2 linked regions of the Homo sapiens genome follow. The protein of the gene in region 1 purifies or fractionates together with the protein of each later gene. This does not show direct contact. Each region holds a gene or a part of one and is shown on either strand. Other genes may lie near its edges. The genes, in order: SKIL and GLI3.

What was found.
Region 2: the proteins of SKIL (region 1) and GLI3 purify together in Homo sapiens (co-immunoprecipitation; one study listed by IntAct). This does not show direct contact.

What each region holds. Positions count from the first base shown.
Region 1 is NC_000003.12:170,388,535-170,392,354, forward strand, and holds part of SKIL (ski-like protein), read left to right. Parts: intron 1-1,688; coding exon 1,689-1,930; intron 1,931-2,501; coding exon 2,502-2,726; intron 2,727-3,724; coding exon 3,725-3,820. UniProt on the Homo sapiens protein: May have regulatory role in cell division or differentiation in response to extracellular signals.
Region 2 is NC_000007.14:42,027,454-42,031,273, reverse strand, and holds part of GLI3 (transcriptional activator GLI3), read left to right. Parts: intron 1-3,820. UniProt on the Homo sapiens protein: Has a dual function as a transcriptional activator and a repressor of the sonic hedgehog (Shh) pathway, and plays a role in limb development.

The sequences.
Region 1 (3,820 bases):
CCATCCTTTCACCTCAGCCTCCCAAGTAGCTGGGACTACAGGGATGTACCACCATGCTCGGCTAATTTTTGTATTTTTGGTGGAGTTGGGGTTTTGCCATGTTGAGGCTGGTCTCAAACTCGTGAGCTTAAGCAATCCACCTGCCTCAGCCTCCCAAAGTGTTGGGATTACTGGTGTGAGCCACCGCGCTTGGCCGTGTTAGTGTTCTTTGAAGCACAAAAGTTTTAAATGTTTATTACATCCAATTTATCTATTTTTTTCTTGTTTTAGGTATCATATCTAAGAAACTATTGCCTAATCCCAATTCCAAGAAATATTTATTTATGTATTTATTTATTTATTTATTTATTTTTGAGACAGAGTCTCACTCTGTTGCCCAGGCTGGAGTACAGTGGTGCCATCTCAGCTCACTGCAACCTCCACCTCCCGGGTTCAACCAATTTTTCTGTCTCAGCCTCCTGAGTAGCTGGGATTACAGGTGCGCGCCACCATGCCTGGCTAATTTTTTTTGTATTTTTAGTAGAGACAGAGTTTTACCATGTTGGTCAGGCTGGTGGTGAACTCCTGACCTCAGGTAATCCACCTGCCTCGGCCTCCCAAAGTGCTGGGATTATAGGCGTGAGCCACCACATCCAGCCAAGAAATTTATGTTTAAGGGTTGTAGCTCTTACATTTAGGTCTTTGATCAGTTTAGAGTTAATTTTTGTATACAGCATAAGGTCCAACCTTATTCTTTTGCATGTGGATATAGTTGTCCGTATGTTGAAAAGATTATTCTTTCCTTTTTTTTTTTTTTTGAGACGGAGTCTTGCTCTGTTGCCCAGGCTGGAGTGCAGTGGCGCTATCTCGGCTCACTGCAAGCTCCGCCTCCCAGGTTCACGCCATTCTTCTGCCTCAGCCTCCCGAGTAGCTGGGACTACAGGCGCCCGCCACCAAGCCTGGCAAATTTTTTGTATTTTTTAGTAGAGACAGGGTTTCACCATGTTAGCCAGGATGGTCTCAATCTCCTGACGTCGTGATCCGCCCTTCTCGGCCTCCCAAAGTGCTGGGATTACAGGCGTGAGCCACCGCGCCTGGCCAGAAAAGATTATTCTTTCCTGACTGAATTGCTTTGGCACCTTTGTCAACAACAATTGCCTTATAAAGTATGAGTTTTTTAAATTTCTGGACTCTGAATTCTGTTCTACTGATCTGTATGTCTATCTTTAAATCATGTCACACAGTCTTGATTTCTGTAGCTTTGTAGTAAGCTTTGAAATTGGGAATTGTGAGTCTTTCAACTTCGTTATTCTTTTTCAAGATTATTTTGCCTATTTTGGGTTTGTTGCATTTCCATATGGATTTTAGAAACTGCTTTTCAATTTCTGCAAAAAATCCAGTGGGGATTTTGATAGGGATTGCACTGATAAGTAGATCAATTTGGAGACTATTACTGTCTTAACAATATTAAGTCTTCCAATCCATGAATTTGGGATGTCTTTCCATGTATTTAGGTCTTAAATTTCTTTTAGTGATGTTTTGTAGTTTTCATTGTACTTGCACTGCTTTTGTTAAATTTATTCCTATTTTATTTGTTTTGGTCTAATTTATAAATGAAATGTTTTAAAAATTACATTTATGGATTGTTCTAGTGATTTTTTTAATGGAGTGATATTCATACTTTGTTACTTGATTTTTTTCTCTCCAAGATGCATCAATCTCAAATAATTCTACAAGTAAAAGGAAATCTGAGTCTGCCACTTGCAACTTAGTCAGAGACATAAACAAAGTGGGAATTGGCCTTGTTGCTGCCGCTTCATCTCCGCTTCTTGTGAAAGATGTCATTTGTGAGGATGATAAGGGAAAAATCATGGAAGAAGTAATGAGAACTTATTTAAAACAACAGGAAAAACTAAACTTGATTTTGCAAAAGAAGCAACAACTTCAGATGGTAAAATTGTTATCTAAATGATAGTCCATTATGAAAAGATACTTTTGTATATTGCTCTGTCGCCCAGGCTGGAGTGCAGTGGCGCAGTCTCAGCTCACTGAAACCTCCACCTCACAGGTTCAAGCAATTCTTCTGCCTTAGCCTTCCGAGTAGCTAGCATTACAGGCACGTGCCACCATGCCTGGCTAAATTTTGTATTCTTAGTAGAGATGGGGTTTCTCCATGCTGGCCAGGCTCGAACTTTTGACCTTGTGATCCACCAGCCTTGGCCTCCCAAAGTGCTGGGATTACAGGTGTGAGCCACTGCGCCCAGCCCCCCTGTATATTCTTAGTAAGAAAAGTCAAAACGAGATGCTACAAATGTACTTAAGATTATTGTTTTACACTGAAAAGCAATTTTAATATATTTTAAAATTTTTTGAGAAAATAGTTTTTTAAAATAATTACCTCTATATAGAACTGATAATGATAGCTGAATTTTAGGTATTTTCTGTGCTATGTTTTCCAGAACTGAAAATTTTAACATGGTGAAAATAAAGTAAAACTTGTATTGTGATTCTTTACATTACAGGAAGTAAAAATGTTGAGTAGTTCAAAATCTATGAAGGAACTCACTGAAGAACAGCAGAATTTACAGAAAGAGCTTGAATCTTTGCAGAATGAACATGCTCAAAGAATGGAAGAATTTTATGTTGAACAGAAAGACTTAGAGAAAAAATTGGAGCAGATAATGAAGCAAAAATGTACCTGTGACTCAAATTTAGAAAAAGACAAAGAGGCTGAATATGCAGGACAGGTAAGAATTACTGTTTGTATAATGGTGCCCTTTCAGCATGGAAATGGAAACTGTTACTTCTCTCTTTTTTTTTTTTGAGACAGAGACTGCTCTGTCGCCCAGGCTGGAGTGCAGTGGCACAATCTCAGCTCCCCACAACCTCTGCCTCCCGGGTTCAAGCAATTTTCCTGCCTCAGCCTCCTGATTGTAGCTGGGATTACAGGCGTGCGACACTATGCCCAGCTAAATTTTGTATTTTTTAGTAGAGACGGGGTTTCACCATGTTGGTCAGTCTGGTCTTGAACTCCTGACCTCATGATCTGCCCACCTCAGCCTCCCAAAATGCTGGGATTACAAGCATGAGCCACTGCACCCGGCCACCGTTACTTCTCTAATAAAGGAATTACTTTTTGTCAAGCTCAGTTTACTAAGCTAGATTTCAAAATAGATAATTCTGTTAAACATAGCTTTATGCTGTATTGTCCAAGATGATTATTTTGATGTTTGTTGCTTTTATTAGTTTAAATTTTTATCGGGTTACTGCAGTTTAGTTACCTAAATTGCTAATCTCTAGCCCTCTGAATATTATATGTTATATTATTTTAATGTAGTATATGAGCTTTCAAATCTACAAATTAACAAACAGGAACTGTTGCCTGTTATGTTCAAAAGCACTGGAGCAAAAATAAGCAATTCTCTTTTGTTAATAGAATCTCACAATTTAAGGAACATGAACAAATAACTAACATGAGCAGGCTGTGATGAGCGGTATAGTAAAGTATAGGGCATAATGAACATGAACATGCTGGATGTGTTCCTTCCTCTTGTTCCTTTGCTTTTTCTTAAATTTAGTGTCCTGTCAGATGTCAGATTAATAGTATTAGATGCTTAATGGATTTAGTATACATGAAATAGTTCGTTTTGTAAAAAGTAATTTGAAAATAGATATTTTCTATGATATGAGGATTAAATGGAAAAACAAAACAATTAAAATTGATAGCGCCTTTTAAATCACATAGTTGGCAGAACTGAGGCAGAGATTGGACCATGCTGAGGCCGATAGGCAAGAACTCCAAGATGAACTCAGACAGGAACGGGAAGCAAGACAGAAGTTA
Region 2 (3,820 bases), on another chromosome or scaffold:
ATTACCCCATCTTTCATATAGTTATTTAGAAACAAAAGCTATAAAAGTAATTTTAGAAATAATAACAGATTAATTGTTGAATGCAGAGAATTCAGAATCAGAATGTAAAATTAATTTCTGGTGACTCATTGGAAAGAGTGGGGTGAACAGAAACATGGAGGCTATGAGGATGGGAAGCACAGGTACCAAGGTTTAGACTGTAGATTATGTCCTGCTCTAGAGAAGGTATAAGAGATTATTAACAATTTCAACTATGCCTGGGTGTGGTGGCTCATGCCTGTAATCCCAGCACCTTGGGAGGCCGAGGCGGCCGGATCACTTGAGGTCAGGAGTTCAAGACTAGCCTGGCCAACATGGTGAAACCCCATCTCTACTAAAAATACAAAAATTAGCTGGGCATGGTGGTGCATGCCTGTAATCCCAGCTGCTCGGGAGGCTGAGGCAGGAGAATCGCTTGAACCTGGGAGGCGGAGGTTTCAGTGAGCTGAGATCGTGCCACTGCACTCCAGCCTGGGAGACAGAACGAGTCTCCATCTCAAAAAAAAAACAAGAAACAAAAAAACAAAAAAAAAAAAAACAAATCAACAATAGTAATAATTTCTATTTGTAGGAAATTGTGGAATGAATACATGAACTATTTAGGAAGGTTCTTATTCAGGGCCCCTAAAAATAGAATTTACCTTCTGTTTTTAATTCTGATATCTTTAATCAGCAAAGTCTGTCCTGTGCCATTGAAGTGCTGCAGAAAGAAATGGATGTAGACACTAGCTTCGTTTGTGTAATACTGCTTTACAGACATGTTGTCAAATTGTAGTTTTCAGAGGAAAACATAGTTTTCTTTGAGGTGACTCTTTTGAGTGTGGTAGGCAGGATAACGGCCCCAAAGATGTCCACATCCTAATCCCCAGGACCTGTGAATAGGTTACCTTCCATGCCAGAACGACTTTTGCAGGTGTGATTAAGCTAAGGATCTTGAGATGAGAAGATGATCCTCGATTATCCGGGTGGCAGTGATGTAATCACAGGGTCCCCTGTGAGAGGGAAGCAGGAGAGGCAAGTTAGGGTCAGAGGAGGAGGAGGAGGAGGCCTGAGTGATGTGGACCCCTGAGCCAAGGAATGTGGGCAGCCTCCAGGTAATGGAACAGGCAGGGAGCCTAGACCGTCTGGAATAATGCAGCCCCGCCGGCCTATTGCAGACTTCTGACTTCCAGAACTGTAAGGTAATAAACAGTGTCTGTTTTTTTAAGCCACTCAGTTTGGGCTGTTTGTTGCAGCAGCAACAGGGAACTAATAGACACTGAAGAATGGATTCAGTCACTCATTGACTCAGTACTGCGTGTCTGCTCTGCCAGGCACACTGCCCGGCCCAGCTGGACCTTGCCTCCTAGACAGAGAGACAGAAAGAGTTTTAGAGAGTACTGCGTGCTGCCATGAGAATAGAATTGTCACGCAGTAGAAAACGATGGGGCAAGGAGGTGCAGAGGGGCCTCGTTTTGATGGGGCATGAGTCTAAGAAGGCCCCTCTGAGGAGGTGACATTTAAGCTGGAACGTGAATGTAAAAAAGGAAGTGGCCATTGTGAGCTCTGGAAGCCAAGGGTTCCAGGCAGGGGACACTGTGAGTGCTGAAGATGCAGAGGGACTCATGCTGTGACAGGAGGCAAAAGGATGCAGGACTCCCCTCCTCCACGGCCCTCCCCACCTTGATTTAAAGGAGGAGGCTGTGGTGGCTCAGGTTTTCTTATCCCCCTAGTGGGAAAACCTCAGGAGAATCTTTTCATACCTTGATCTTGCCCAAGAGAGTTGAGGGTATGCGTGGGAGGCATCCTTTCTCATGGGCATTTTGTCTGCGACTCTTGACATCCGTTTGCTGTGCCCAGTCATCGCCCGTCCTCTGCCCCAGCACTCTGATGGCAGTGTTCTGAGAGCAGAGGAGCCTTGACTCCCAAATCTGTTAAGTGATACTGTGTCAGAGCTGAGAACTTTCTACTTTTGTCATCAAATTCTAAATTGGCTTTGTCATCTGGAGTGGAGCAGCCTTCCTGCGCACAGTCCCTGGCAGGAGCAGCAGCAGAAGGTCGAGGGCCAGCCCTTCTGGGTCCAGACAAGCTGTCCCATACCCTGCCCTGGCCCAGGTCTGTGCACGAGGAGGAGGAGAATGTTTCTGTTGCTGGCTTCTTATGAATAAGCACTGAAGGCTCAGGATCACCGTCCACTGTGTGTTCCCTCATAGCCCTTGCAGTCTAATTGTTGATGTGGATTTTAGAGAACATTTATTCCCGTCACCTGGTTTTACCAGCAAAAAGGTGGAGGCCCTGAATGGGGATATGGCCAAAGTATGTGAAGAGCTTTCAGAACCCCTACCCCTGCTCCCCGAGGACAAGGAGGATCGTAGACCTAGGAAACTGCGGTGGGAATGCTGAGTCTTATCTTTTGTAAGGATATCTCCTACATCTTTTTATTTCTTTATTTTTATTTATTATTATTATTATTATTATTATTATTTATTTTTGAGACGGAGTCTTGCTCTGTCACCCAGGCTGGAGTGCAGTGGCGCGATCTTGGCTCACCGCAACCTCCGCCTCTCCAGTTCAAGTGATTCTCCTGCCTCAGACTCTCGAGCAGCTGGGATTACAGGTGCATGCCATCACGCCTGGCTAATTTTTGTATTTTTAGTAGAAACGAGGTTTCGCCATGTTGGTCAGGCTTGTCTCGAACTCCTGACCTCAGGTGACCCACCCGCCTCAACCTCCCAAAGTGCTGGGATTACAGGCGTGAGCCACCGCGCCCGGCCTCCTACATCTTTTTTAAAATGCACTTCCCTTATCCGTCTGTGAATGCTTTTGAGTTGCTTTTGTATAAAATCAAGGGCATGTTTTCTGAATGGTCTCTATTTTTAATTAAGTACTGATTTTTTAAGCCCCCAAATGTCGTGTCTCCCAGAATTAGAAGTATAAATGACCTTCAGGGACCCTCTTTCAACTCTGCCAGATAGTCTAGGCTCCTAGAACCCTGGAAAGGTGTTTGGAGATACATGCAAAGTCGGTGTGCCATGGTAATTATATGTGAAGTGGGTTATTTTGGTTTTTGTTTATTTAATGAATAGAATAACGTAGTTACACTTAGTAATACTCATTCACCCAAAGGAAGGGGGGCTGTTAAATCATTGTGTTTTTTGATGAATGGCTTGTACACTGAAAAATAAATTGGACAAACTGGCATAGAGCTCAGTGAACATGAAATCAGCTATTAGAAGAAAGCTTGTGAACAAATTCTGAGGCAGATATGCATCTTTTGATTAATGCCCTATCAATCATCCACACAGCTACCTTAGCTAAGTCTTGCCATAATCATTCATGCTTGCTTTTGGAAACACTGGCAGTAACTATAACGCTGCAGAAACGGAATATTATTACTGATTTCTCCCTAACTTACTGTGAACAATGACTGTTTTCACCACGTTTCTGCTTTCCTTTATTAAGGAAATACAATGTAGAATGAAAGGAGAGTTTCTCAAAGCCTGGTGAAATTCTCCTAGGGTATTCTTAATGATATTCAGTCTTAAATGGGCAAGCTATTGTAATGTAAGGTTCTCTGCAGGAATGATAGTAATGTAATCCCATTGAAGCTGCCTGTTATGGATTGTAGTCAAATAGGCAAAATGTAGAGTCACATTAATGAACAGAGTATATCTTTGGAATTATTACTTAAAGTTGTTGAAATGGTTTGAATTTTGCTATTGTAATTATTTTATTCTCCTTTAATGCGCTTAATAGCCATAGTAATTAACCCACCAGATTGGAAATTTGCATGAGTTCTAAC